Linked DNA regions of Homo sapiens. The protein of the gene in region 1 purifies or fractionates together with the protein of each later gene. This does not show direct contact. Each region holds a gene or a part of one and is shown in the gene's direction. Other genes may lie near its edges.

Region 1 (4,258 bases):
CTCAAAAAAAAAAAAAAAAAGGGCTATCGTCCACAGATGCAGGTCATCTCCAGCCCTAGGTTATCGGTTAATGACCGAACCACATCATGGCTTAGCAGAGGGTCTCCCTCGGGGCTGAACGTCCTCGCAGTCCAGGCCGTCCTTGCAGGCACCGGCATCATGTTACATTGTGGAATGTATTGCTGTTGCACATTGTTCCAAAACATCCCTCCAGCTCATACTATTTCAACAGGCGCTTTCTCTAGGCCCCCAAAACAGAGAGTACTACTGGGAACAAATCAACATCTTTCACTCCAACACTGCGTTTGGTGCCCCGTAACAATGACCTCCTATCAGCAGGAAGTAGCCAGAAAGATTATAATGCCCCATCCCCCCATGATTCTCATAAGAAATAAATATACAAGCATGATAGCAATCATGCATAATTTGACAGTGGGGATTGTGGCAGGCCAGGTCTCACTAACGGCTGAATAGGCCGGCCTCCACGACAACTGTTTCAGCACTGACCGGGTGGTGAAGTCAAATATTAAAAGCTGAGAGGGCCAGCGCCCTTCAACAGAGGCTGGAATGTAACAAAAGCCCACCAAGAGTTTTGCCCAGGCCTCTCCTGGGCCTTGAAGCATGACAAGATAACAAAGGAATTCTTAACAGGACCCGTTTAGGATTAAACAAGTTTTACTGGGGTCTAAAGGAACGCCCCAAACCTCCATGATTTAGCAGGAGAAAAGATAAGGGGAATCACCCCAGCACCTGGACCCCTCCAGATTAAGTAAATTTACTGAGGCTCCAGAGGAAGTTCTTCAGGACTCAGGCCTTAATTATAGATTAGAAGAAGTTCATCACTGTGTCTTTAGCTGAATGCACACTTACACGTAGACCTACAGCTTCGAAGATATATAAGCTCTGGAAAACTGCAATTTTGAGCTGGTCTAGTGCTATTTTCCCGGGCTTCTGCCTGTACCCGGTGACAGAAGCAAACTCTCTTATTTCCCAGCTCGTCTGCATCTCGTTACTGGGCTGAGAGAATAAGGAGCGAATAAGCGCCCGGCCGTCGGTTGAGTCTGGGGACGCTGTGACTCACCATTGGCTCCGGCCCCAGACGCTGTGCTGGGGAAGGAGCGGGAGGGGATGGGAGGGGAACAGGGACACCCTGTACTCCACAGACACAGCCACCATGGGTCCTCTTGCAGGCTGAGAGAGAGGCTGTCCCCTGCATTTGGGACAAGGTGCCTGCCTCCAGTGAGGGGACAGCAGGTTCCTTTGCCCATGGATCCAGGAAGCTCCCACAAGGGAGTGGGGTGATCTTCCCCAAGGTAGAGAGGGCAGCAGCCTCGGGGCCTTTGGCTGCATGCCCAGTGGGCACAGGATGTGTGTGGACGGGCCACAGAGTGGGCCGCCCTGCAGGGCTGGAAGCCGCAGGGCAGCAGGGTATAAAGGGGGTGGGCCGAGGGCTGAGGCGTCCACGGCAAAGATGGCTCTGCTTCTGCTGAGCCTGGGGCTGAGCCTCATCGCAGCCCAGGAGTTCGATCCCCACACCGTTATGCAGAGGAACTACAACGTGGCCAGGGTGTGTCTGCGTTGGGGTCTGTGGGGAAGGGGCCAGGCTTCAAGGCACCTGTCTTCCCCCAGCCTGGGGTCTCTGACCTGTGACCAGGGCAACTGGTCCAAGGGGAGCCCACCTCTCCTCCCCAAGCTGTGACAGCAGCCTGGGAGAGCAGGGGTTACTCCGGGAGGGTCGGGTGGGAGAGGCCTGGGAGAGTGACTGGGGCCCTGAGAGGTTAGAGGGGGCCCTGGGAGGGCAGAGGGGAAAGCTGGAGAGTGGAGTGGCGGCCAGCAGGGAGATGGGGGCCCTAAGAGGACAGAGGGGTTCCTAGAAGTATAGGGGAGACCTAGGGAAAAGAGGGGGACTCAGTGGGAAAGGGTGGAGCGGGGGACCTTGAGAGGACAGAGGGGGACCTGGAGGGGCAGAGGAGAGACCTGTGGGGCAGAGGGGGCCCTGGAAGGGCAGAGGGCATTCTGTGAGCAGAGGGGGGACCTTGGGATCAAAGGGGGGATCTGGGGACATAGGGGAGACCTGGGGGGCAGCGGGGGCCCTGGAAGGGCGGAGGGCATTCTGTGAGCAGAGGGGCGACCTTGGGGGTAAAGGGGGGATCTGGTGACGAGGGGAGACCTGGGGGCACTGGAAGGGCGGAGGGGTTCTGGTTGGGAGCCAGATGCTAAGGGGCCGGGCCCTGGGAGGGAAGACTGTGGGCGCTAAGCATCCCCAGGGCTGTCCCGCGGCCCCCCACCCACTGGAGCTCTTTGTCTTCAGGTTTCAGGGGTCTGGTATTCTATTTTCATGGCCTCAGATGACCTGAATCGGATTAAAGAAAATGGAGACCTGAGGGTCTTCGTCCGGAATATTGAACACTTGAAGAACGGCAGCCTAATATTTGATTTCGAATACATGTGCGTGTTGCCCATCTCAGCTGGCATCAGGAAGACCCATGCCCCTGCCACCCCAACGCATACTCTCACTCTTGCACACACACGCTCGCACACTCACTGACTTGCACTCTGGTGAGAGCCTGAGCCTGTGCGTGTGACCCTTGGGGGCAGGGTGAGGTGGGAGCAGGGACTTGGTCTGCCTGGCACTGTGCTCTTCCCTGAAACATAGAGATGAAATCGCCCCCTTCCAAGGCTGGGGTGAGGTTCGAGGAGATGAGGGTGTCCGGTGGGCTGCAGCAGGGCCCAGCCCAAGAACTTGGGGCTGTGGAATGAGGCCTGGGCATTGGGAGGGTGAGCCTGTGCCCTGGAGGAGGGGTGCTCTCTGCCATCGCACGTCCAGGGGGCTGGAGCTCCACTCCCGGCATCTTCCTGGCTGGCTTCCAGGGTGCAGGGGGAGTGTGTGGCTGTGGTCGTGGTCTGCGAGAAGACAGAGAAGAATGGGGAATACTCCATCAACTGTAAGTGGAAGCCAGGCTCCTCCTGGTCTCACAGTCGGGGGTCTCCTTTCTCCAGGGCCTGGGCCATATTCTGGTGAGCACTGACTCTGGGGATTTTAGTTAAGCCCCTGACAGCTTGACCCTGAACTGGAGGGACCCATCCTGGCACCTACCCAGGGGGGCTCCTGGCCCAGGGGAAGCAGGGAGGCAGGTGTGTCATGCTGAGCTCTGGGGGGTGAGCCCACTGAGGGGCCACCAGGGTCTGCAAGCCAATGACAAGGAGGGAGGGGGCTGTGCCGCTGCTGCCCGCCCCCTGTGCAGGGGTCTCCGCTGGGTGAGCACCGTGGGCTCCTCCCCTCCCGCCTCAAAAGGCCACTTGACCCCCCATCCTCACTTGCGGCCACACAGCACGTGTCACAGGACCCTGAGGGTGGCGGGGCCAGGCCACGCTGAGCCATGTCTCCACGCAGATGAGGGCCAGAACACAGTGGCCGTCTCGGAGACTGACTACAGGCTGTTCATCACCTTCCACCTCCAGAACTTCAGGAACGGGACCGAGACCCACACGCTGGCGCTCTATGGTACCTCCGCTGTCCCCCTCTGACCCCCTCGGGGACCCCACCTCCTCTGAAGTCCGGCCCAACCCTGGGCGGAGGAGGGTCTCGCAGTGGCCCTGGGGTTTGGAGAGGTGGTTCCCGTTGGCTATTCCTTCCCACAGACACACCGTTAGGGTGCTGGGTGCTTCAATCTGTCACCTCCCATCTCACTTGGCACAAAGCCCCTCTCTGGTCAGGGCGTGACCCCCTGCCCAGCCTCAGCACTTCCTGAGCACCCCCAGCAAGGCCCAGCTTCACACAGAACCAACTCTGTTCCCAGCACGGGTCCCATAGCTGGAACCCTCCTTCCTGAGCAGATTTGAAGAAACCTGCGAAAAGTACGGACTTGGCTCACAAAATATCATCGACTTGACCAACAAAGGTCAGCCCCACTGCTCCCGGACCAAGCGGGAGCCGGGACAGGGTGGGGATGGGAGGTGTGCCTGCGGGGTCCCTGTCCCTGCGCTGAGAGCCCCCTCTGTCCTTCCAGATCCCTGCTACTCCAAGCATTACAGGAGCCCGCCCAGGCCTCCCATGCGTGAGCTGCGACTCGGGACGGGCAGGGGGCTGGATGGGGAGAGCTTGGGGCCAACGTCAGAGGCTGCGGGGTCCCACCCCAGGAGGTGCCCATCCCTCCCCCTGGTCTGGGAACCGAACACAAGGTGCTTTGGTGAAAGATGCTGTGAAAAGCATCCTGGAGTCGGGGCAGTGATGGGGCCTTCCAGGGTGGTAAGGTCT
Region 2 (3,500 bases), on another chromosome or scaffold:
TATAGCCAACCCAGACACGTAACCACACCAGTCACACAGACACCACTCCACAAATTGACACACACACCCAGCCAATCCAGGCACATACACACAGTCACCGATTTACACAACAGACATGCAGCCACGACAAGCAGCCACACACACACAGGCTCCTCAGACTCATAACCATGGGCATCCAGATACACACCCACACAGCCACCACAGCCACACACACATGTACCGGCCACACACACACAACCATTTGGGGCTAACAGAGACACCAGAACCCCAGGCTGACACACATGGTACTGCCTCCCCCCATGGGACCTGTGCACAGTCAGGGCCACAGCACGCGGCGGTGGTGGCTAGCTCAGGCTGACTGACACACTCTGACATGCAGCTCCTCTCTTGCCTGCTCCCCTCGCTGGAGCGGCATCTCCATATTTCTTCCTCTTGCTTCCTGTCTCCTTCACTCCTGGCCACCCCCACTCACCCCTACCCCAGATAATTGATGGCCCGGGCCTGGCCCGGCCGCTCCTGCCTCTCGATCCATCTTGTCCTCGAGCCCATGCTGTCTCCAAGATCGGTGGCCACCTGAGACACATAGAACGGGTGGGAGCAGGAGGGGGCTCCTTAGCCCCCTTGGAGCCCAGGAAAAGAACGGCCAGGCGGCCTCCACCAGAGTGGAGCACTGGCGACTGGGAGGGATACCCAGGCTTTCCTCCTCTGCTCAACTGGTTCCCAGCACTCACTCCTTGCAGGCCAGTTGGGGCTGAGGCCCAGGTGGGGGCTCTGGTCTCTGAGGTCCTGGAGCCTCTTTCTTTTTCTTTTTCTTTTCCTTTCCTTTTTTCTTTTCTTTTCTTTTTTTTCTGAGAGGGAGTCTCGCTCTGTCGCCCAGGCTGGAGTGCAATGGTGCGATCTAGGCTTACTGCAACCTCCACCTACCAGGTTCAAGTGATTCTTCCACCTCAGCCTCCCCAATAGCTGGGACTACAGGCGCACCCCAGAACGCCCGCCTAATTTTAGTAGAGATTAGGTTTCTCCATGTTGGCCAGGCTGGTCTCGAACTGAACTCCTGACCTCAGGCAATCTGCCCACCTCAGCCCCCCAAAGTGCTGGGATTACAGGCGTGAGTCACCGCGTGTGCCGGGCGGGAGCCTCTTTCTTGATGCTGGATGTTAATGTGGTCACAGCCTCCCTGGCTCAGTTTGCTCAGAGTCCAGTCCCTCCCTGGCTCATTACTGGAACCAACCAGGTGCCGGGCCAGGAAAGATGAGCCAGGATCCAGAGCTCCACTCCCTACTCACCTTCACACTGGCTTTGGGTTTTTGGCCCTCATTGGAGCTCTGTGGGCCACATCAGGATTCTTGACGTCATTTCACAGATGTACAAACTGAGGCCCAGATCCATGAAGTGACTGGGCCAAGACTACATAGCTTGAAAGGGCTGCAGTTCTCCTCCAAGGCACGCTCCCTGCCCGCTGCGGGACTGCGTGATTCCATTTGGTCTCCTAGCGGCTGTGGAAAGGGACTGGCGTCGATAGGGCTCTGGCAGGATGGCGGGGGACAACCCCAGCGTCTCTCTCTCCTCTTTCTTCGTGCACAGGCCGTCAGTGCCCAGATACCAGAGTCCGGAAGGCCGCAGTACCTGGGGCTGCGCCCCGCCGCGGCCGGAGCGGGTGCCCCCGGCCAGCAGCTCCCAGAGCCAAGGTCTTCGGACGGCCTAGGCGTGGGCCGCGCCTGGAGCTGGGCCTGGCCGACCAACCACACGGGGGCGCTGGCCCGGGCAGGGGCAGCCGGGGCGTTGCCCGCGCAGCGCACCAAGAGGAAGCCGTCCATCAAGGCGGCGCGCGCCAAAAAGATCTTCGGCTGGGGGGACTTCTACTTTCGGGTGCATACCCTCAAGTTTTCGCTGCTGGTGACCGGCAAGATCGTGGACCATGTGAACGGTACCTTCAGTGTGTATTTCCGCCACAACTCGTCCAGCCTGGGCAACCTCAGTGTCAGCATCGTGCCGCCCTCCAAGCGTGTCGAGTTCGGAGGAGTCTGGCTGCCCGGGCCTGTCCCCCACCCTCTGCAGTCTACGCTCGCCCTGGAGGGGGTGCTTCCTGGGCTGGGGCCCCCGCTGGGGATGGCAGCAGCAGCGGCGGGGCCCGGGCTTGGGGGCTCCCTCGGGGGCGCACTGGCGGGGCCGCTTGGGGGCGCGTTGGGAGTGCCTGGGGCCAAAGAGTCACGCGCTTTCAATTGCCACGTGGAGTATGAGAAGACAAACCGCGCGCGCAAGCACCGACCGTGCCTGTACGACCCGTCGCAGGTGTGCTTCACCGAGCACACGCAGAGCCAGGCCGCCTGGCTCTGTGCCAAGCCCTTCAAAGTCATCTGTATCTTCGTCTCTTTCCTCAGCTTTGACTACAAACTGGTGCAGAAGGTGTGCCCAGACTATAACTTCCAGAGTGAGCACCCCTACTTCGGATAGCGCCCCTCCCCAGCCAGTCCTGAGCCTCCCGCCAAATCCCAGCCTCACTAGGTGGGACCCCCTTCCCAGTGTTCTGCCGCTCCTGTGGCCATGTCGCCCACTCCTTCCACTCTGGGGGCGGAGGGGAATGGCTTCTCGGGACCCTCAGCTAGCGTGGGTGCCCTTTTCCTTATGCGGAGTGCCCGCAAGGCTGGGGTAGCCCCCTCCAGTACACCCCAAAGTGAAAGGGATAAGAGTGCAGCCCCAGAATAGGCGGGGCTTGGAGGCGGTCCCAATGTCCCCTGGGTCCACAGTGGGTCCCCTTTTCACCCTTGGCGCTAGGCTGCGCACTCCCTTTCCCCGCAGCTTTAATAACTCCTGGCCTGGCACCCTCACCCCACCCTGACTTTCCCATCCCCCAGCGCTTGTCCTGCTTCACCCTACCCCGCCTAAGACTGTAAAGGCCTAAAAACCTCGGCCTGTCCTCCCACCATTCTGCCTGCCATATGCCTGTCCCCTTTTCCTCCAAACCCTATTAGGGTACCGGAAGCAGAACCCCTGGGCTGAGGCCCTGGCCCTGCCCCCGGCCCCTGCCCCTGCCCGCCCCCCTCCAGTCCAGGCAGTCGAGCTCCACCTGCCCTCTCCTGCTGCTTCCTCTCGGTGATATTTTTTCTACGCCAAAACAGACGGGAAAGGGAACAAAATAAAGTGAAATCCAATACACGCCTGTGTGAGACCTTTGTAGGGAATGGGGAGGTGGCGTGGGGCTTCTATGTGGTAGAGACCTGGCCAAGGCCTTCTCCCTCAGCGGCTCTTGGGGAAACCAAGACAAAGACTGACAGAGCTAGCACCTTGGAAGTCACCAAAGACCAGATCAAAGAGAGCTGAGGGTTACCCTCGGGGTAGGAGCCCCGCCTGAGGTTGGGATTCTCCTCCCTGAGGTGGGCGAAGGGAAGCTGCAGCAAGTGGGATGGAAATGAGACCTGAGTGGGGATCACCAGCGGACGATTTGGGGAAGGAGGTGTAAGACCTTGAATGGGATGGACAGGGACAGTGTAGGCAGAGCG
Region 3 (3,500 bases), on another chromosome or scaffold:
GACCATAGTTACTAAAACAGCATGATACTGATATAAAAATAAGCACATAAACTAATGGAACAGAAGAGAGAACCCAGAAATAAAGTCAAATACATACAACCAACTGATCTTGGACAAAACATTCAAAAACATAAATTGGGGAAATGACACCCTATTTAATAAATGGCACTGGGAAAACTGGATAGCCACATGTAGAATGAAACTGGATCCCTACCTCTCACCTTATACAAAAATCAACTCAAGATGGATCAAAGCCTTAAATCTAAGACCTGAAATGATAAAAATTCTAGGAGATAACCTGCGAAAAACTCTTCTGGACATTGACCTGGCAAGGAATTTATGACTAAGACTCCAAAAGCAAATTCAACAAAAACAAAAATAAATAAATGGTACCTAATTAAACTAAAAACCTTCTGAACAGCTAATCATCAGAGTAAACAGAAAACACAAGAATGGGAGAAAATATTTGCAAACTATGCATCTGACAAAGAACTAATATCCAGAATCTACAAGAAACACACACAAATCAGCAAGAAAAAAACAAATATCTCATCAAAAAATGGGAAAATGGCATGAATAAACATTTCTCAAAAGAAGATACACAAATGGCCCACAAACATATGGAAAAATGCTCAACATCACTAATCATCATGGAAATGCAGATTAAAACCACAATGAGATACCTCCTTGCCCCTGTAAGAATGGCCATTATTATAAGTCAAAAAACAATAGATGTCGGTGTGGATGTGGTGAAAAGGAAATATTTATACACTGCTGGTGGGCATGTAATTTAGTATAACCTCTATGGAAAACAGTGTGGAGATTTCTTAAAGAACTAAAAGTAGATTTACCTTTGGTTCCAGCAATCCCAGTACTGGCTATCTACCCAAAGGAAAAGAAGTCATTATGTCAAAAGACACCAGTAAACATATGTTTATTTTAGCACAATTCACAAATGCAAAGATATAGAACCAACTTCAGTGCCTGTCATCCAATGAGTAAAGACAATGTTATATATATATGTAAAAAAATATATTATATATATATTTTACACAAACACACACCATGGAATACTACTCAGCCATAAAAAAGAACAAAGTAATGTACTTTGCAGCAGCTTGAATGGAGGCCATTATTCTAAGTGAAGTAATTCAGGAATGGAAAATCAAATACCGTATGTTCTCACTTTTAAGCGAGAGCTAAGCTGTAGCTACACAAAGGAACACAGGGTGGTATAATGGACTTGGAGACTCAGAGTGGGGAGGGTGGAAGGTGGATGAAGGATAAAAAAACTACATACTAGATAGAATGTACACTACTTGGGTGATGGGTGCACTAAAATCTCAAACCTTGCCACTATACAATTCAACCATGTAACCAAATACCCTTGTACTCCAAAAGTATTGTAAATAAAAATAGGTTCCCCACCCTGTGTCCAAGTGTTCTCATTGTTCAATTCCCACCTATGAGTGAGAACATGCAGTGTCTGGTTTTCTGTCCTTGTGATAGTTTGCTCAGAATGCTGGTTTCCAGTTTCATCCATGTCCCTTCAAAGGACATGAACTCATCCTTTTTTATGGCTGCATGGTGGGGGTAAGGGGGAGGGATAGCATTAGGAGATATACCTAATGTAAATGACGAGTTAATGGGTGCAGCACACCAACATGGCACATGTATACATATGTAACAAACCTTCACATTGTGCACAGGTACCCTAGAACTTAAAGTATAATAATAAAAAAAAATAAAATAAAATTAGGTTATTAAAAAAGAGGAGAATAGGTAACATGCTGAGGCATGTCAGAAAGAAGCAAGTTCCCTTTGAATTGCAGGAGACTTTATAAAAATGGTGACATGTCCAGTAGACTGATAAACTGGCAGCAGCTTAAGGCCCATTTAAACAAAGCTCTCGAAAGATGCTATCTTTACTTATTAAATCATAATTCTGAAAAACAAATAAAAAACAATTAAAAATGATCCAAAAGTTCCACAGGAATAAAAGCCAGTTGTAAGAACTGAAGCCAGAAAGCTTTGTATAGTAGTGGTTAAGAACATACATTTTGACCTAGAATAGACCTAACTTCAACTGTTGACTCTGCCAGTGACCACTCTTGTGATGTGCAAGTAACTTGTCTTTTGCAGCTCAGTTTCCTCAAGTGTAAAGTGAGTAGAATAGTAGTAATTACTTCATAGGTTTGCTTCATAAGGAAATCTTTGTAAAGAGTCTAACTCTGATTTTCGGACATTTGTCAAGTTACCAAGCTTAGGCTGCCATTTTTAAACTGTCAAATGAGGTGGCAAAAATCCTACAAGCTTGAAAGATTTTTAAAAAACTACTTTCTGAAAGTACTGAGAGACACATGCACTCCTATGTTCATTGCAGCACTATTCACAGTAACAAACATGGAATGCCCATCAATGGTGGACTGCGTAAAGAAAATGTGGTGAACATACAGCAAGAAATACTACGCAGCCATAAAAAAGAACAAAATCATGTTCTTTGCAGCAACACGGGTGCCTCTGGAAGCCATTATCTTGTGCAAATTAACACAGAAACATGAAACCAAATACTGCATGCTCTCACTTAGAAGTGGGAGCTAAACATCGAGTACACACGGACGTAAAGACGGGAACAATAGACACTAGGGGCTACTAGTAGGGGGAGAATAGAAGGAGGCTGAAGGTTGAAAAACTGCCTATTGGGAACTATGCTCACTACCTGGGGGACAGAATCATTTGTACACCACCTCTCAGTGACATGCCGTTTACCCATGTAACAAACCTACACAATGTACCCTCTGAATCTAAAATAAAATTTTTAAAAAAGAAAAGATGTATTTAATTTGTCTTCAAATTTGGTATGTAACTTGTATGAAAGAAATTTTAATCCAAGCAGATTTTGTAATGAGATAATGAAGAAATTAAAACTACAGGTGACACTGTGCTGTTGCTCTCTGACCCAGTGGAAGTCTACATATGTGTGAAAATGAATACACCTTCTCTCTCCAGGTTGCAATGGTTCAGTTCACTGATGATCCCAGAACAGAATTTAAACTAAATGCTTACAAAACCAAAGAGACTCTTCTTGATGCAATTAAACACATTTCATACAAAGGAGGAAATACAAAAACAGGTATGACCAAAAGAAGCCCAGCTAAGGCTCAAAGTAATTCATTATTTGTAACTACTGAAATGACCTTTTATTTTAAGGCATAGTAATTTTTTAAAGATTTTTTTTTTCATTAATTTAAGAACTTTGTTCCCACCCTTTCTTCTCCAGAAAAACAAAAATGGGAGGGAGTGAAATCAAACTGTTGCCTTTCTTTGTTTCAGGAAAAGCAATTAAGTATGTTCGAGATACCTTGTTCACTGCAGAGTCAGGTACAAGAAGGGGCATCCCAAAGGTTATCGTGGTTATAACTGATGGAAGATCACAAGATGATGTGAACAAAATCTCCAGGGAGATGCAATTAGATGGTAAGATATATAAACAATAGTGG
Region 4 (4,137 bases), on another chromosome or scaffold:
TATTTCAATATAATGTGTCAATATTTAAGCATTCAATAGCCTCGGGTACTAAAGGTGGAAGATATGAAGAGTTGAAATCATCATCCTTCAAATAGATGAATTATTTGAGACCAAATAATAGTAAACTTTATTTTTTTAAGTGAGTTGTTGCTTCCATCTATAACTTCAAATTATTGTGATAGATATAATAATTTGTGCATCAACATAATAAACTTTAATCACCCCAAATACTGATTTTAGAAAAATTGTCAAGCTATTATCTTAAAATATATGACAGGATTTATTTATTTAGAATTTATTTATGGTTTAGGCTGGGCATGGTGGCTCACACCTGTAATCTCAGCACTTTGGGAGGCCAAGGTGGGCGGATCTACCAAAAACAGAAAAATTAGCCGGGCATGGTGGCGCGTGCGCCTGTAATCCCAGCTACTCGGGAGGCTGAAGCAGGAGAATCGCTTGAACCCAGGAGGCAGAGGTTGCAGTGAGCCGAGATCGCGCCACTGCACTCCAGCCTTGGCGACAGAGCGAGACTCCGAAAAAAAATAAATAAATAAAAGCAGCTCCTTGTTTTTAAGAAGCCCTATTGTAATTCTACCCGGTCTTATATTTTAATAGTTCTTCATTATAAGTATTTACATTATACCAGGTTCTTTACTGTGTCAAACTTTTCAAAACTATCTTCTGGTAGTAAACTTCTCCAACTTCTCTTAGTTTTTACTTTTGTGAAAGTGAATAGTGGAGCTGTACATACGTAATCATTCTCATCTTCCTTTTTTACCCCCTAAAAAATGGTTAGTCCTGATAGACTTCAGCCACACTCTTCTGCATTAGGTAACAAAGAACTTCCTTATATTTTTGCACCTGTTTCAATTTTGGAGCTATCCTGTCTAAGTTGAGAAGCAATGGCAAGTCAATTCTTGAAAATTTTGTCGCTTTAGATAGAGGCTAACAAACGACCCTTGTTCATAAAGAGACCAAGATAAAGTGGGTTTGGGGCCGGGAATTCTGTTCTTGCATCTCCTGGGGACAAAGCCCACCTGTAACACTTGCCTCCATCATCTCCCTCCCTTCGAGCTAGCCAAAGGTGTGAACCCTGGGTCTGATTTTTATGGTCATTTCCAGGGATGCTAACGCGCCAAGTCACGCTCATAAGAAGCAGAGTGGGGCGATAGCTAGCCTCTCGCCGCCCACCTTTCTCAGCACTCTGGGCCAAAGCCTGGTTTTGAAAATGCGCGCCCCGCCCCGGCCTCCGGGGTCACGCGCCTTCTCGGTGGTGCACTCTCCGGCCGGCAGGTGGCGCTGTGAGCTGGTAGGCGGCGCCAGCCCTGCGATCTGGCACAGGCGCCTGCGCCGCAGCGGGGCTGCCGCTGGTTGGTCCGCACGTGGAACCTCTCCTGGTCCTGTTGACCCGGGCCCCTCGGAACCTCCAGCTTGGTCCGGTCTGGGACTGGAAGCCTGCCATGGCGGCTTCTGCGGCGGAGACGCGCGTGTTTCTGGAGGTGCGGGGACAGCTGCAGAGCGCGCTTCTGATCCTGGGGTAAGAACTGGGATTCTAGGCGCAGTGCCCAGCTCGCTTTACTGCTGCCCGGGGGTCGGGGGCTGGTGAGTCTCTCTCTGTACGAGGGATTTTGAGTTTCTTCTTTCCAGTTGCGTAGAGCCTCTCGATCACTCAAAGTGAAGCTTTCCCCTGTAGTCGGCTCCGCCACTCCCACCCCTACTGACAGTGTGGGTATCTTTGGGGAGCTTTTTAGAAATTCAGGGTCTCAGCTCCACACCAGACTTATGGAATCAAAACTTATATTTTAACAAGATTTCCAGGAATCAAATGCACATTAAAATTTGAGGAACAGTGATGTAAAACACTGTTGGCAGTGCCCGGCGTTTCCAACAAAACAATGCAAAAAATGATTTGTCTGTCTCTCTTCGGGATCCTCCTTACTGGATCAGTTCCTATGTGAGCTTCTTGTTTTGTAAATAACCTCGGGTCTTTTCGTCCAAAACTGCTCTTTGCAGAGAAACCACACAATCATTCAATAAACGTGAGTTTAGTGAACCACTAAGACAGGTTGTAGACTTCTTACTGGAGCTCGTTCATTTATTCATATTCTTCCTTCCAGTGAGAACGTCAAACTTGTTATTCGCTACACAAATAACTTTTAGGAAAAATGTTCTCTATTTTGTTTGACAGCAGTTTTAATGATTTGTGGTCCCCTTGTCTATTCCTTTGTGATCGCTGTTTCAAAGAGAGTAAGTTAGAAGTTAAAATCCTGAGAATGGTATTACACGGTGCCACAGGTAGATTGATGCTTAATTTTTTCCTCTTCCCTAAATCTGCCAGATATCTGGTGTGGCAATTTGGAATATGGCGTGAGAACTGAGTTCAAATGCTAGCTTCCTCACGAAATTAGAATAATTTAATCTGAATTTCTTCAATCTTGAAATGGGAATAATAGTACTCTGAATGTATTTCTTTTTCTCTTTCAAAATTTATGAATTTGGACAAATATCTCCAATTCTGGTGCACCTTGTAGAGTAATTAGGAACCCAAACCCTACCAAAATAAAACAAAAACCACACACACACAACAAACCCTCCCTTCCTCTCATGCAGGGGCCTTTCACAGTTCCCTTGGACTACTCTCCTTTGTTTAGGCAAGGTACCCGGGTGGCTCATGCCTGTAATCCCAGCACATTGGGAGGCTGAGGCGGGCGGATCACGAGGTCAAGAGATCAAGACCATCCTGGCCAACATGGTGAAACCCTGTCTCTACTAAAAATACAAAAATTAGCTGGGTGTGGTGGCGCGCACCTTTAGTCAGTCCCAGCTACTCAGGAGGCTGAGGCAGGAGAATGGAGTGAACCCGGGAGGCGGAGGTTGCAGTGAGCTGAGATCGCGCCACTGCAGTTCAGCCTGGCAACAGAAAGAGACTCCGTCTCAAAAAATAAAAAATAAAAAGAAAAAAAAAGAAACCTAACTTTGCTGGACTTAGTTTTGCCATTTCTTGAACTACTTATAAATGGATTCATACAATATATACTTTTTTGTTTCTGGCTGCATTCCTTCCATAATATTTTTCAGATTCACGTTCCATCTATGTGGCTGCATATATCAGTAGTCCATTCCTTTTTCTTGCTAAGTTTTCCATTGTATGAATATACCACAATTCATTTATCTGTTCTCCTATTGCTGGATGTTTTTCTTGTTTCTGGAGTTTGCTTATTATGAATACAGCTGTCATAACACTGTTGTATAAATCTTTTTTTGGACATACATTTTCATTTCTTTTTAGGTAAGTACCTAAGAGTGAAATTTCTGGGTCATAGGATAGATGTGCATGTTACTTTGTGAGAAATTGCCAAACAGTTCTCCAAAGTGATTGTACCAGTTTGCACGTTCAACCAGAAAAAAAATGAGTTTCAACTACTTTACATTTTGACTTACATTTAGTATTATCAGTCCTTTTAGTTTGAACCATTCTAGTGTGTGTAAAATAGTATCTTGTGGTTTTAATTTTCATTTTACCGATGACTAATAATGTTGAGTGCCTTTTCACTTGCTTTTTAGCAATTCATATATGTTCTTTTTAAAAGTATCTTCTAATTTTTTTTGCCCATAATCAGATTATTTGTCTTGTTTAATTGAGAGTTCTTTATACTGTCTCAAAACAAGAGCTTTCTCACATAAATGCCTTGTGAATATATGACTATTCTTATCTGTGACTTAACTTTTCATTTTCTTTTCTTTTTTTTTTTTTTTTTTTTTTTTTAGACAGCGTCTTGCTCTACTGCCCAGGCTACAGTGCAGTGGTGTGATCATGGCTCACTGCAGCCTCAACCTCCTGGGCTCAAGCAATCCTCCCACCTCAGCCTCTGGAGTAGCTGGGATACAAGTTGCATGCCACCATGCCCAGCTAATTTTTGTATTTTTTTGTAGAGATAGGGTTTCACCATATTGCCCATGCTGGTCTTGAACTCCTGGACTCAAGCGATCCACCCACTTTGGACTCCCAAAGTGCTGGGATTACAGGTATGAGCCACCATGCCCTGCCTCGTTTTTTTGATAGTGTCCTTTGATGAACAGAAATTTTAATTTTAATGAAGTCCACTCTATCGTTTTTTTATTCCTTAAGGGTTAGTT
Region 5 (3,500 bases), on another chromosome or scaffold:
CCAGGCTGGTCTTGAAATCCTGGCTTCAAGTGATCCTCCTGCCATGGCCTCCCAAAGTACTGGCATTGTAGGCGTGAGCCACTGTGCCCAGCCTCTATGTTTTTTTGAGATAGGTCTTGCTCTGTCACCCAGGCTGGAGTGCAGTGACACGATCATAGCTCACTGTAACCTTGCTCCTGGGCTCAAGCAGTCCTCCTACCTCAGCCTCCCAAGTAGTTAGTACTACAGGCATCTGCCAGCATGCCGGACTAATTTTTTCTTTGTTTTTTGTAGAGATAGGGGTCTGTGTTGCCCAGGCTGGTCTTGAACTCCTGGCCTCAAGTGATCCTCCTCAGCCTCCCAAAATGCTGGGATTACAGGCATGAGCCATGGTGCTTGGCCTGTATCTGTATCTATAGCAAATTGATTGGGATTTGTCAAATCTGGGATTGGTTGAAGACTTAACTCATAACTTCTTTTTTTTTTTTTTTTGGGAGAGAGAGTCTCACTCTGTCGCCCAGGCTGGAGTGCAGTGGCACGATCTTGGCTCACTGCAACCTCCCAGGTTCAAGCAATACTCCTGCCTCAGTCTCCCCAGCAGCTGGAACTACAGGCACATGCCACCACGCCTGGCTAATTTATTTTTGTATTTTTAGTAGAGACAGGGTTTCGCCATGTTGGCCAGGCTGGTCTTGAATGCCTGACCTGAGGTGATCCGCTCACCTCGGCCTCCCAAAGTGCTGGGATTACAGGCATGATCCACTGTGCCTGGTCCTGTACCATAACTTGTAAGCACTAAACCTTCCAGACGACTGATCTCAGGTGATCCACCCGCCTCGGCCTCCCAAAGTGCTGGGATTAGAGGCATGAGCCACTGTGCCTGGCCCTGTACCATAACTTCTAAGCATTAAACCTTCCAGATGACTCCACATTTTCTTACTCTCACAGTCCTTTGAAGACAGCTTTATTCTAAAGACAAGGAATTTGGATCTATTCTGGGTACTTTTAAACAATCTGAAGGTCTGCAAAATTTTATCTAATTGATGCTATCAGAGTTTGTAAAGTTCACTGACATAAAAATTATACCCTGATCTACGTTCTTGACAAGATTTCCTTAAAGGTTATTCTACTTGTCTCAATTTTGTTTTTTTCTGTTAGAGGAAAAAGTTTTAAATGCCAAGCTTTTTCTTTTTTAAAAAGAGATGAGGATCTCACTATGTTGCCAGACTGGCCTCGAACTCCTAACCTCAAGTGAGCCTTGCATCTTAACCTCCTGAGTAGTTGGTAATACAGGTGCATGCTACTGTGACTGGCCCAAATGCAAAATATTTCAACACAGAATAAACTAAATAAAAATGGATTCAGCCAGCTGTGGTGACTCATGCCCAGCACTTTGGGAGGCTGAGGCAGGTGGATCATCTGAGGTAAGGAGTTTGAGACCAGCCTGGCCAACATGGTGAAACCCTGTCTCTAATAAAAATACAAAAATTAGCCAGGCATGGCAGTGCACACCTGTAGTCCCAGCTACTCGGGAGGCTGAGGCAGGAGAATCACCTGAACCCAAGAGGCAGAGGTTGCAGTGACCCGAGATCGTGCCACTGCACTCCAGCCTGGGAGAGTGAGGCTACATCTCAAAAAAAAGGATTCAATTTTTTTTTTTTTTTTGAGATGGAGTCTCACTCTGTCACCAGGCTTGAGTGCAGTGGCGCGATCTCGGGTCACTGCAACCTCTGCCTCTTGGGTTCAAGCGATGTTCGTGCCTCAGCCTCCCTAGTAGCTGGGATTACAGGCACCCACCACCACGCCCAGCTAATTTTTGTATTTTTAGTGGAGATGGGGTTTTACCATCTTGGCCAGGCTGGTCCCCATCTCCTGACCTTGTGATCCGCCTACCTCGGCCTCCCAAAGTGCTGGGATTACAGGTGTGAGCCACCGTGCCCAGCCGGATTCAATTCTAATATGCTTTCTTTTTTCTTTCTTTCTTTCTTTTTTTTTTTGTGAGACAGAGTCTTGCTCTGTTGCCCAGGCTAGAGTGCAGTGGCGCGATCTTGGCTCACTGCCAGCTCTGCCTCCTGGGTTCATGCCATTCTCCCGCCTCAGCCTCCCAAGTAGCTGGGACGTCATGCTTTCATAAATATCCTCCACGTAACTGTTAACATAGTACAGTACAAGCATCTGACAGTTTTAAAATAATTTTGCTAAGATTGTGTGCTTATGTCTTGTAACTTTGTATTATTATTTTTTTAATTTTCAGGGGCGACAGCCAGTTTTGTAGTCAAAAAGCAGTCATCTATTCATTGAATTTTACAGCAAACCCACCTCAAAGAGTATTTGAACTTGTTGACCAGATTAATCCATCTATTTTCTGCATTCATATTACAAACTGTAAGTATTTGACATTGATATATTTTGTGAAGCTCTGGAAAATTTTTCTCAAAGTTATGGAAAAATGTGTCAGATTTATTTTATAATTATGATTATGGTTTTTTTGAGACAGAGTCTTGCTCTGTCACCCAGGCTGGCGTGCAGTGGCGCAATCTCGGCTCACTGAAACCTCCACCTCCCAGATTCAAGTGATTCTCCTGCCTCAGCCTACTGAGTAGCTGGGATTACAGGTGCCTGCCACCATGCCTGGATAATTTTTGTGTGTGCGTGGTTTTTTTTTTTTTTTTTTTTTTTTGAGACGGAGTTTCGCTCTTGTTGCCCAGGCTGGAGTGCAACGGCTCAATCTCGGCTCATCACAAATCCTCTGCCTCTTGGGTTCAAGTGAGTCTCCTGCCTCAGCCTCCCAAGTAGCTGGGATTACAGGCATGGGCCACCATGCCTGGCCAGTTTTGTATTTTTAGTAGAGACGGGGTTTCTCCATGTTGGTCAGGCTGGTCTTGAACTCCCGACCTCAGGTGATCCACCTGCCTTGGCCTCCCAACGTGCTGGGATTACAGGTGTGAGCCACTGTGCCCAGCCCTATTATTACTATTTTTTCTTTCTTTCTTTTTTTTTTTTTTTTTGAGGCAGAGTCTCACTCTGTTGCCCAGGTTGGAAAGCAGTGGCACGTTCTCAGCTCACTGCAACCTCTGCCTCCCGGGTTCAAGTGATTCTCCTGCCTCAGCCTCCCGAGTAGCTGAGATTACAGGTACCTGCCACCACACCCAGCTAATTTTTTATTTTTAGTAGAGACAGGGTTTCACCATGTTGGCGAGGCTGGTCTCAAACTCCTGACCTTAAATGATCCTCCTGCCTCGGCCTCTCAAAATGCCGAGATTACAGGTGTGAGCTGCCTTGTCCAGCCCTCAGTTAGATTTAAAGCAATTATTCTGTTTTGCTATATGTATAGTGTATATCTTTAGAGACCATTTCACAGGTAATAGGAAGTAACTTTATAGACCTGTGGGCATGCACATTTTCTTTAAAAGTAATTATGATTGTGTAGTTGTCTTTCGAAACCGTATACTTATCTTAAAAGTGTTTATAATATGCAGACATACATAGGAATCTAGGTTTCTATATATACATGTGTTTTT
Region 6 (3,500 bases), on another chromosome or scaffold:
GAACCGGGAGGCGGAGGTTGCAGTGAGCCAAGATCACGCCACTGTACTCCAGCCTGGGGAATAGAGAGCGAGACTCAGTTTAAAAAAAAAAAAATACATAAAGTGAAAATTCTTTGAATGAGGGGTTTCACAGGTTCCCAGAATGACGTGATTTTATAGCCCATCTTTCCCTTTATAGTGTGGATTCTTTGACAGAGCCAGACCTCCTCAGGAGGACATGACCGACAGGGAACAGCTGACAAATGACAAGACCCCTGAGGCATGACAAGAAAAAAAAAGAAGACCAAAGACCTCAAACACTGGTCCTGTTCAAAGAAAAAGAAAGAACATGAGGGTTAAAAATCAAAGCTTTCTGATACCTGACAGTGACCCAGGAAATGGAGGGGACCCTGGAAACATCACCTCATCTACACCGCACTTTGGAGAAATTGTCCTGGGTGCCCAGTGAGCCCTGTTGGAAAAGGAAACACCAAAGCTGGAGAAGCCATCAGCAATTGTGGAAGATTTTCTTTTGCTTTAATCGTTCTGTACTTGGCAGACACTTTGAAATGCGTATGGGAACGTAAGTTGCAGTCCAGATCAATCCAGCATAAGTTGCAGAGATGAAATGTCTGAATCACTATAGAATTTACAAGGTGAACTAAGGTGAAATGACTGATTTACTATAGAACTTAGAACTAAGACCACACCATCCAACACTACTGTATCCAATGGAACATTTGACACCTCCCTATGGAAAAGAAACATTTCTAAGGACATTATGGCTCAGGGAGACAAGCAATATGTTGTTGGTACTGTGAAAGTACTTTTGAAAGGACAAAAATAATCTTGTGAGTGAGGGTGAGAGTTTATTTATTTATTTTCCATGTCTCTAGGTTGAGAATCTGTCATCTAGAGAATTTGGAAATTAAGATTTGGTTAGCTAGTTTTCAAAATCACTCACTCAGTTTCCTCCTAAGAACCACTGTGTGCAGATAACTCATTTAGCAGAGCTTCTTCAGAATTTAGACAGTGCTAAGGAAAGGAAGATTGGCATTAGGAATCAGTTCTATTTAATACCTTGCTGCCTTCCATCTGAAATTCCTTTCACTCACATTATCCAGGGACTCACATCTGCTTAATTTAGCTTTGCAAGATGTTGCATTTATATTTCCTTGTATATCTTTCCATTGACTTAGTTAATACATGAATTTCGAGGTACTCTCTACCTTTGGAGTGTTTAAAAGTCATGGTAAAATGTCTAGAGTTCATTAATTAAAAAGCAATTTAACATTATGGGTAAACATTATTTTTAATATCTATAAGAAGCAACACTTCTTATAGATATTTAGCTTGGGATTAAATACCCGTTTTTCCTGCTATGCCTTGTACTTGTATACACAGAGAAAACATGTTGAATATAACTTAGACAAAAACATAAAATTATACAGGCATGAGCCAAACTGGGAAAACTGATTCCTAAAGATTTTTATTTAAAATTGCTTATTCCAACTTTATTACTTATTTTTACTGCTAATCTTTATAATATGTAACTTTGGAGAATAATCTTTTATTTAAGCTATTTTCCCATCATCTTGAATTTAACCATCACAAATTTTTTATGTTTAAAACTCTTGTAAATAATTCATAATCTTGTAATATTATCATTTTTGAAGTAAAATTGACCAGCCAAATTTATAGGTAGTCTGCACAATTTTGTATCCTTTTTTAATAATGAAAAATTACTATGAAGAAATACTGAACAAATTTTTATGTGCAATATTTTATAGACCTATGTATCTGAAGCATGTTTACACTGGCGTTTTTTTTTTTAATTAATTTCCTAAATGTTAAGTATGATAGAACAAGCTGACCCAAATCCTTAAGTTTACAAAGCTGTTGGAAAACTTTGTGTCCTGATTTCAACAATCACGCTTTGTTTGAAAGATGAGCCAAGCTCACAGACACTAAATTTTATGTCATGCCATAAGCTGGAGAGGAGCCATTTGGCTACAGCTGCGGAACTTCATTGAGGAGCAAATGAAAGGCACATGGACGAGCACGCTGGTGCAGTTCATGTTCTTCCTGCCTGTGAATTGAATACTGTCCTGGTAGCAGTTTCGGGTCGGTCAGGAGCTCAAGGCTGGTTTGTGTGGCTGACTACGGATGAGCACTGAAGTTGCCTCAAAGAATTAAGGGGTGTCCACACCAGCCTCTGGGGGTCTTTGGTGTTAGTCTTCCAGGTAGAGCTGGTTTTACAAGTAGGTGGCCATCTACAGGATGTGATGTGAGCGATGCCAGACAGCTCTCTCTGACCCCAGGTAATGCCCTGAATCTGGTGATCCTGGCTGATCTGTGACCAATAGAGATTAGCTCCTTGGGATTTGGGGTCCTAAAAGGTCCCTGAAAAAATGCACCCCTTGTCTTTAAGCCAACATTGGTGAAGGAACTGAGAACTCTTAGGGTTACATAAAAAAAGACCCCTGTTGAGATAGTTTATGCAGATACCTGGAAGGAACTAGAGATGCCAGGAGGAAGACTGAGACCCAGAATGAAGCAAGGCATGAGGGCTCCAAAGTGAACTGCACCATCCCAGAGTCTCAGCCAAGATGGCCCTTTCCTAGAGGGACGGGCACCTTCCACCTGCCCACAGGCACTGCTACCTATGGGAATTGCAGAAGGCCGTTGTACACACGCGCATGCACGCAGTGGCCCTCTGCCCTTTAGAATATGGAAGCAAAGTCTGGGTGCAGTGACTCACACTTGTAATCCCAACACTTTGGGAGGCCGAGACGGGCAGATCACCTGAGTTCAGGAGTTCAAGACCAGCCTGGCCAACGTGGCAAAACCCCATCTCTACTAAAAATACAAAAATTAGCTGGGCGTGGTGGCAGTCTCCTGTAATCCCAGCTACCTAGGAGGCTGAGGCAGAGAGAGAATCGCTTGAACCCAGGAGGCGGAGGTTGCAGTGAGCTGAGATCGCGCGACTGCACTCCAGCCTGGGCGACAGAGGGAAACTCTGTCTCAACAAAAAAATAAATAAAATAAAAAATAAAAAAAGAATATGGAAGCAAATGGAGAAAGGGAGGAAACTGAGGTCAGGCAAACCTTCCAGCAATCCGTTCTGCCCAGAGAACATACTGACGACAGAGAACACACTGAGCGTTATCTGCTTCTAGTTAGAGCATTGCCGATTGCCTTCATAATTCATAATGTGCTGTGCTCCTCTGAGGGTCTATCTGTATTTCTCTTCAAAGAATTCCCTTTTTAAATTCTTGCAGCTGGGTTTTAAGACACAATAATGGGGCAAATTAAGTTTTATAAACTTGGAGATTTTTATACAGTAAATAAAAAAATAATATGTACTAGTCACCCCTGAAACTGCATTCTTAGAACTCGACTCTTGTTTTATTTAAATACGTGCGTAGATATCTGTGAAGATTTTCATGTACCTATTTACCTTGTCACTAATAAAATTAAAACTGAAAGACTTGATGGCATACTTTCGGTTTATTTCACAT
Region 7 (3,500 bases), on another chromosome or scaffold:
AACTGAGTATCTGTTTTTGTCATCAGAAGTGGGACATTTAGGAAAGGGCAGTTGTTTTCCTGTAACAGTTTTAGTAAATATGAAAATAACCCACAATGTGGGAAGAAAACTTTGTAGACAAGCAATTAAGAAAATATTCAATAATACATTTTAATCCGATTTTCAAGTATGCTAACATTTTAGAAAATAAACGACGAAAATGGGATTAGGGCAACTGTATTTTATATCTTTGAAGCCTGAAATAGATTTGTAATTACTTCACTAATCATCACATTTTTCTAAAGCTGATGGAACAACAGCATGTAACTCTTTTGCTTTACTTTGTACTGGACCAGGCTCTCAGTGTTAAATTTTTGGAAAAAAATCATGAGTAGTGGAACATATATAATGATAATATTATATGCATTACATGAAAATAATCATAAAGAGACTGTTATGTGGCTTTCAAGGTCAGAACTTTACAAATAAATACTAAATATATGTATTGAAGTTTTCAGTGTTTACTGACAATTTTCCTAAATCTTCAGAGCCTCTGAGGTCAGTAACTTTTTCAGTTCATTAGTCATTTAATCAGTCATTAGACTGAGAAGGCAAGTTTATGCAAATCTTCTGGTTGTTTTTTGAGATGGAGTCTTGCACCGTCGCCCAGACTGGAGTGCAGTGGGGCGGCTCACTCACTGCAAGCTCCACCTCCCGGGTTCACGCCATTCTCCTGCCTCAGCCTCCCGAGTAGCTGGGCCTACAGGCACCTGCCACCACGCCAGGCTAATTTTTTGTATTTTTAATAGAGATGGGGTTTCACCGTGTTAGCCAGGATGGTCTTGATCTCCTGACCTCGTGATCCACCCGCCTCGGCCTCCCAAAGTGCTGGGATTACAGGCATGAGCCACCGCGCCCGGCTGCAAATCTTCTGTATTTTAATCATAACCATGTCCACTATATATTCCTTCGGATAACTAAAAATTAAAATATTTGGTGTATTATTTGCAAGGAGTCAAAGATGATGTCTTTTCCCAGAGGCATGAACCTTAGAAATGCTTTCGATGGGGATGTTTCTGTAACACTGTGTTATTCTGGATCTTCAAATAATAGCAAAGCCAGTTACTCTAAATGTAAAATTTTTCTATTCCCAAGGTTCACTTTTGTTTGGTAGGTTTTCACGATTTTAAATACTGTTTAATGGAAGAAAAATACGTAGCCAGGCGTGGTGGCTCACACCTGTAGCCCCGGAACTTTGGGAGACTGAAGCAGGCAGATCACGAGGTCAGGAGATTGAGACCATCCTGGCCAACAAGGTGAAACCCTGTCTCTACTAAAAATACAAAAATTAGCTGGGCGTGGTGGTGCACGCCTGCAGTCCCAGCTACTTGGGAGGCTGAGGCAGGAGAATTGCTTGAACCCGGGAGGTGGAGGTTGCAGTGAGCTGAGATCACGCAGTTGTACTCCAGCCTGGTGACAGAGTGAGACTCTTTCTCAAAAAAAAAAAAAGTGTGTGTGTGTGTGTAGAGAGTTTGTGTGTGTGTGTGTGTGTGTAGAGAGTTTATGTGTGTGTGTGTGTGTGTGTGTGTGTGTGTGGAGAGAGAGTTTATTTGGGCCAAAATAGAGGACTGCAACCTGGGAAACACATATTCAAGTTGCCCTGAATATATGTTCCCAAGTTCAAGAAACTTGAAACTTGTTTCTTTCTGATATTTTCCACCTATTTGGACCAAATAATGAGCTGTGTTTATTTTGTAATTACAAAATTTGCTTATATAAAACTACAGAGGAAAACATTTTTATTTGGGGCAACAATGAACTGCTTTTATAAATTAATTTAAAATATGGTTAATATGGTTATTCTCCCCACACCCTAACTATACACCTGTATTCACTTGACATGAACAAACTGCTTTGTGTTTGGGATTCAGGTAAAAGGTGATTTTTGCATTTTCTAGTAATAGTTTAGAAATCTTTTCATGTCAGCATCTTGAAATCTACCTCATTATTTATTTATTTATTTATTTATTTGGGAGACAGAGTCTCGCTCTGTCTCACCCAGGCTGGAGTGCAGTGGTGCGATCATGGCTCACTGCAGCCTCAACCTCCCAGACTCAAGCGATCATCCCACCTTAGCCTCTGGAGTAGCTAGGACCACAGGTGCATGCTACCACTCCCGGCTAATTTTTGTATTTTTTGTAGAGATGAGTTTTGCCATGTTGCCTAGGCTGGTCTCGAACTTCTGGGCTCAAACAATCCACCTGCCTTGGCCTCCTAAAGTGCTGGAATTATAAGCATGAGCCACTGTGCCCAGCCTAATTTTTTTCATAATTTACTTTTTCTCTGGAGCATAGATTCAAAATGCCCTGAATATATGCTCTCTACTTCATTCTTTTAATAACTATACAGTTTGCTAATGTTACGCTGGAGTATCCCAGTGCTTAAAAATATAATACACTTGGCTGGGTGCAGTGGCTCACGCCCGTAATCCCAGCACTTTGGTAGGCCAAGGTAGGAGGACAGCTTGAATCCAGGAGTTGGAGACCAGCCTGGACAACAAAGTGAGACCTGTATCTACAAAAAATGTCAAATTTTTTTTTTTGAGACAGAGTCTCACTCTGTCGCCCAGGCTGGACTCACTGCAATCTCCGCCTCACGGGTTCACGTGATTGCAGTTTTAGTAGAGACAGGGTTTCACTATGTTGGCCAGGCTGGTCTCGAATTCCTGACCTGAAGTGATCCACCCACCTTGGCCTCCCAAAGTGCTGGAATTACAGGCGTTAGCTGCCACACCAGGCCCCAAAAATGTAAAAATTAGCTGGGCATTATGGCATGCACCTGTAGTCCCAGGTACCCAGGCACTTGGGGGCACAGGTGGAGGATTGCTTGAGCCAGGGAGGTCAAGGCTGCAGGGGGCTATGAGTGTGCGACTGCATTCCAGCCTGGGCAACAAAGTGAGACCCTGTCTCAAGGCAAAAAAAAGAAAAAAAGGGGGGCGGGGGCTGGGTGTGGTGGTGGCTCACGCCTGTAATCCCAGCACTTTGGGAGGCCAAAGCAGGTGGATCACTTGAGTGCAGAAGTTTGAGGCCAGCCTGTGCAACAGGGCAAAACCCTGTCTCTACAAAAAAATGCAAAACTTAGCCGAGAGTGGTGGCATGTTCTGTGGTCCCAGCTACTGTAGAGGCTGAGGCGGGAGGATCACTTGAGCCTGGGAGGTCAAGGCTGCAGCGAGCCGTGATTATGCCACTGCACTCCAGCCTGGGAGACAGAGCAAGACTCTGTCTCAAAAACAAAATCAAACAAAAAAACACACCACTTATTTGAAATAAAATACTGTAATTGGCTCTTACCTGCCCAAGAACTAAAAGGTCACACAAAATTTGAATAGATCTTTTCATGTATATTTCTTAGCCACCTCATTAGGAAATGTTTTAAAGCTGAATTATATTTTGTATCTGGGATCCCATTTATAGCCCTAGAGATGATGTTATTCTTCTGAAATACTAAAAGAGGCCAGCTGT

The links.
Region 2: the proteins of LCN9 (region 1) and NXPH4 purify together in Homo sapiens (affinity purification with mass spectrometry; one large-scale study listed by BioGRID and IntAct). This does not show direct contact.
Region 3: the proteins of LCN9 (region 1) and COL14A1 purify together in Homo sapiens (affinity purification with mass spectrometry; one large-scale study listed by BioGRID and IntAct). This does not show direct contact.
Region 4: the proteins of LCN9 (region 1) and UBE3D purify together in Homo sapiens (affinity purification with mass spectrometry; one large-scale study listed by BioGRID and IntAct). This does not show direct contact.
Region 5: the proteins of LCN9 (region 1) and TCTN1 purify together in Homo sapiens (affinity purification with mass spectrometry; one large-scale study listed by BioGRID and IntAct). This does not show direct contact.
Region 6: the proteins of LCN9 (region 1) and ITGA8 purify together in Homo sapiens (affinity purification with mass spectrometry; one large-scale study listed by BioGRID and IntAct). This does not show direct contact.
Region 7: the proteins of LCN9 (region 1) and DNAAF2 purify together in Homo sapiens (affinity purification with mass spectrometry; one large-scale study listed by BioGRID and IntAct). This does not show direct contact.

What each region holds. Positions count from the first base shown.
Region 1 is NC_000009.12:135,661,851-135,666,108, forward strand, and holds the start of LCN9 (epididymal-specific lipocalin-9 precursor), read left to right. Parts: upstream 1-1,458; 5' UTR 1,459-1,471; coding exon 1,472-1,567; intron 1,568-2,311; coding exon 2,312-2,448; intron 2,449-2,871; coding exon 2,872-2,945; intron 2,946-3,394; coding exon 3,395-3,505; intron 3,506-3,800; exon of another isoform or gene 3,801-3,837; coding exon 3,838-3,893; 3' UTR 3,894-3,902; intron 3,903-4,010; 3' UTR 4,011-4,258.
Region 2 is NC_000012.12:57,223,294-57,226,793, forward strand, and holds the end of NXPH4 (neurexophilin-4 precursor), read left to right. Parts: intron 1-1,584; coding exon 1,585-2,454; coding exon of another isoform or gene 2,455-2,653; 3' UTR 2,654-3,156; downstream 3,157-3,500. UniProt on the Homo sapiens protein: May be signaling molecules that resemble neuropeptides and that act by binding to alpha-neurexins and possibly other receptors.
Region 3 is NC_000008.11:120,275,102-120,278,601, forward strand, and holds part of COL14A1 (collagen alpha-1(XIV) chain isoform 1 precursor), read left to right. Parts: intron 1-2,383; coding exon of another isoform or gene 2,384-2,398; exon of another isoform or gene 2,399-2,831; intron 2,832-3,009; coding exon 3,010-3,133; intron 3,134-3,333; coding exon 3,334-3,477; intron 3,478-3,500. UniProt on the Homo sapiens protein: Plays an adhesive role by integrating collagen bundles. It is probably associated with the surface of interstitial collagen fibrils via COL1.
Region 4 is NC_000006.12:83,063,042-83,067,178, reverse strand, and holds the start of UBE3D (E3 ubiquitin-protein ligase E3D), read left to right. Parts: upstream 1-1,337; 5' UTR 1,338-1,460; coding exon 1,461-1,537; intron 1,538-3,933; exon of another isoform or gene 3,934-4,026; intron 4,027-4,137. UniProt on the Homo sapiens protein: E3 ubiquitin-protein ligase which accepts ubiquitin from specific E2 ubiquitin-conjugating enzymes, and transfers it to substrates, generally promoting their degradation by the proteasome.
Region 5 is NC_000012.12:110,624,129-110,627,628, forward strand, and holds part of TCTN1 (tectonic-1 isoform 1 precursor), read left to right. Parts: intron 1-2,233; coding exon 2,234-2,364; intron 2,365-3,500. UniProt on the Homo sapiens protein: Component of the tectonic-like complex, a complex localized at the transition zone of primary cilia and acting as a barrier that prevents diffusion of transmembrane proteins between the cilia and plasma membranes.
Region 6 is NC_000010.11:15,513,923-15,517,422, reverse strand, and holds the end of ITGA8 (integrin alpha-8 isoform 1 preproprotein), read left to right. Parts: intron 1-178; coding exon 179-265; 3' UTR 266-3,469; downstream 3,470-3,500. UniProt on the Homo sapiens protein: Integrin alpha-8/beta-1 functions in the genesis of kidney and probably of other organs by regulating the recruitment of mesenchymal cells into epithelial structures.
Region 7 is NC_000014.9:49,628,745-49,632,244, reverse strand, and holds part of DNAAF2 (protein kintoun), read left to right. Parts: intron 1-3,500. UniProt on the Homo sapiens protein: Required for cytoplasmic pre-assembly of axonemal dyneins, thereby playing a central role in motility in cilia and flagella.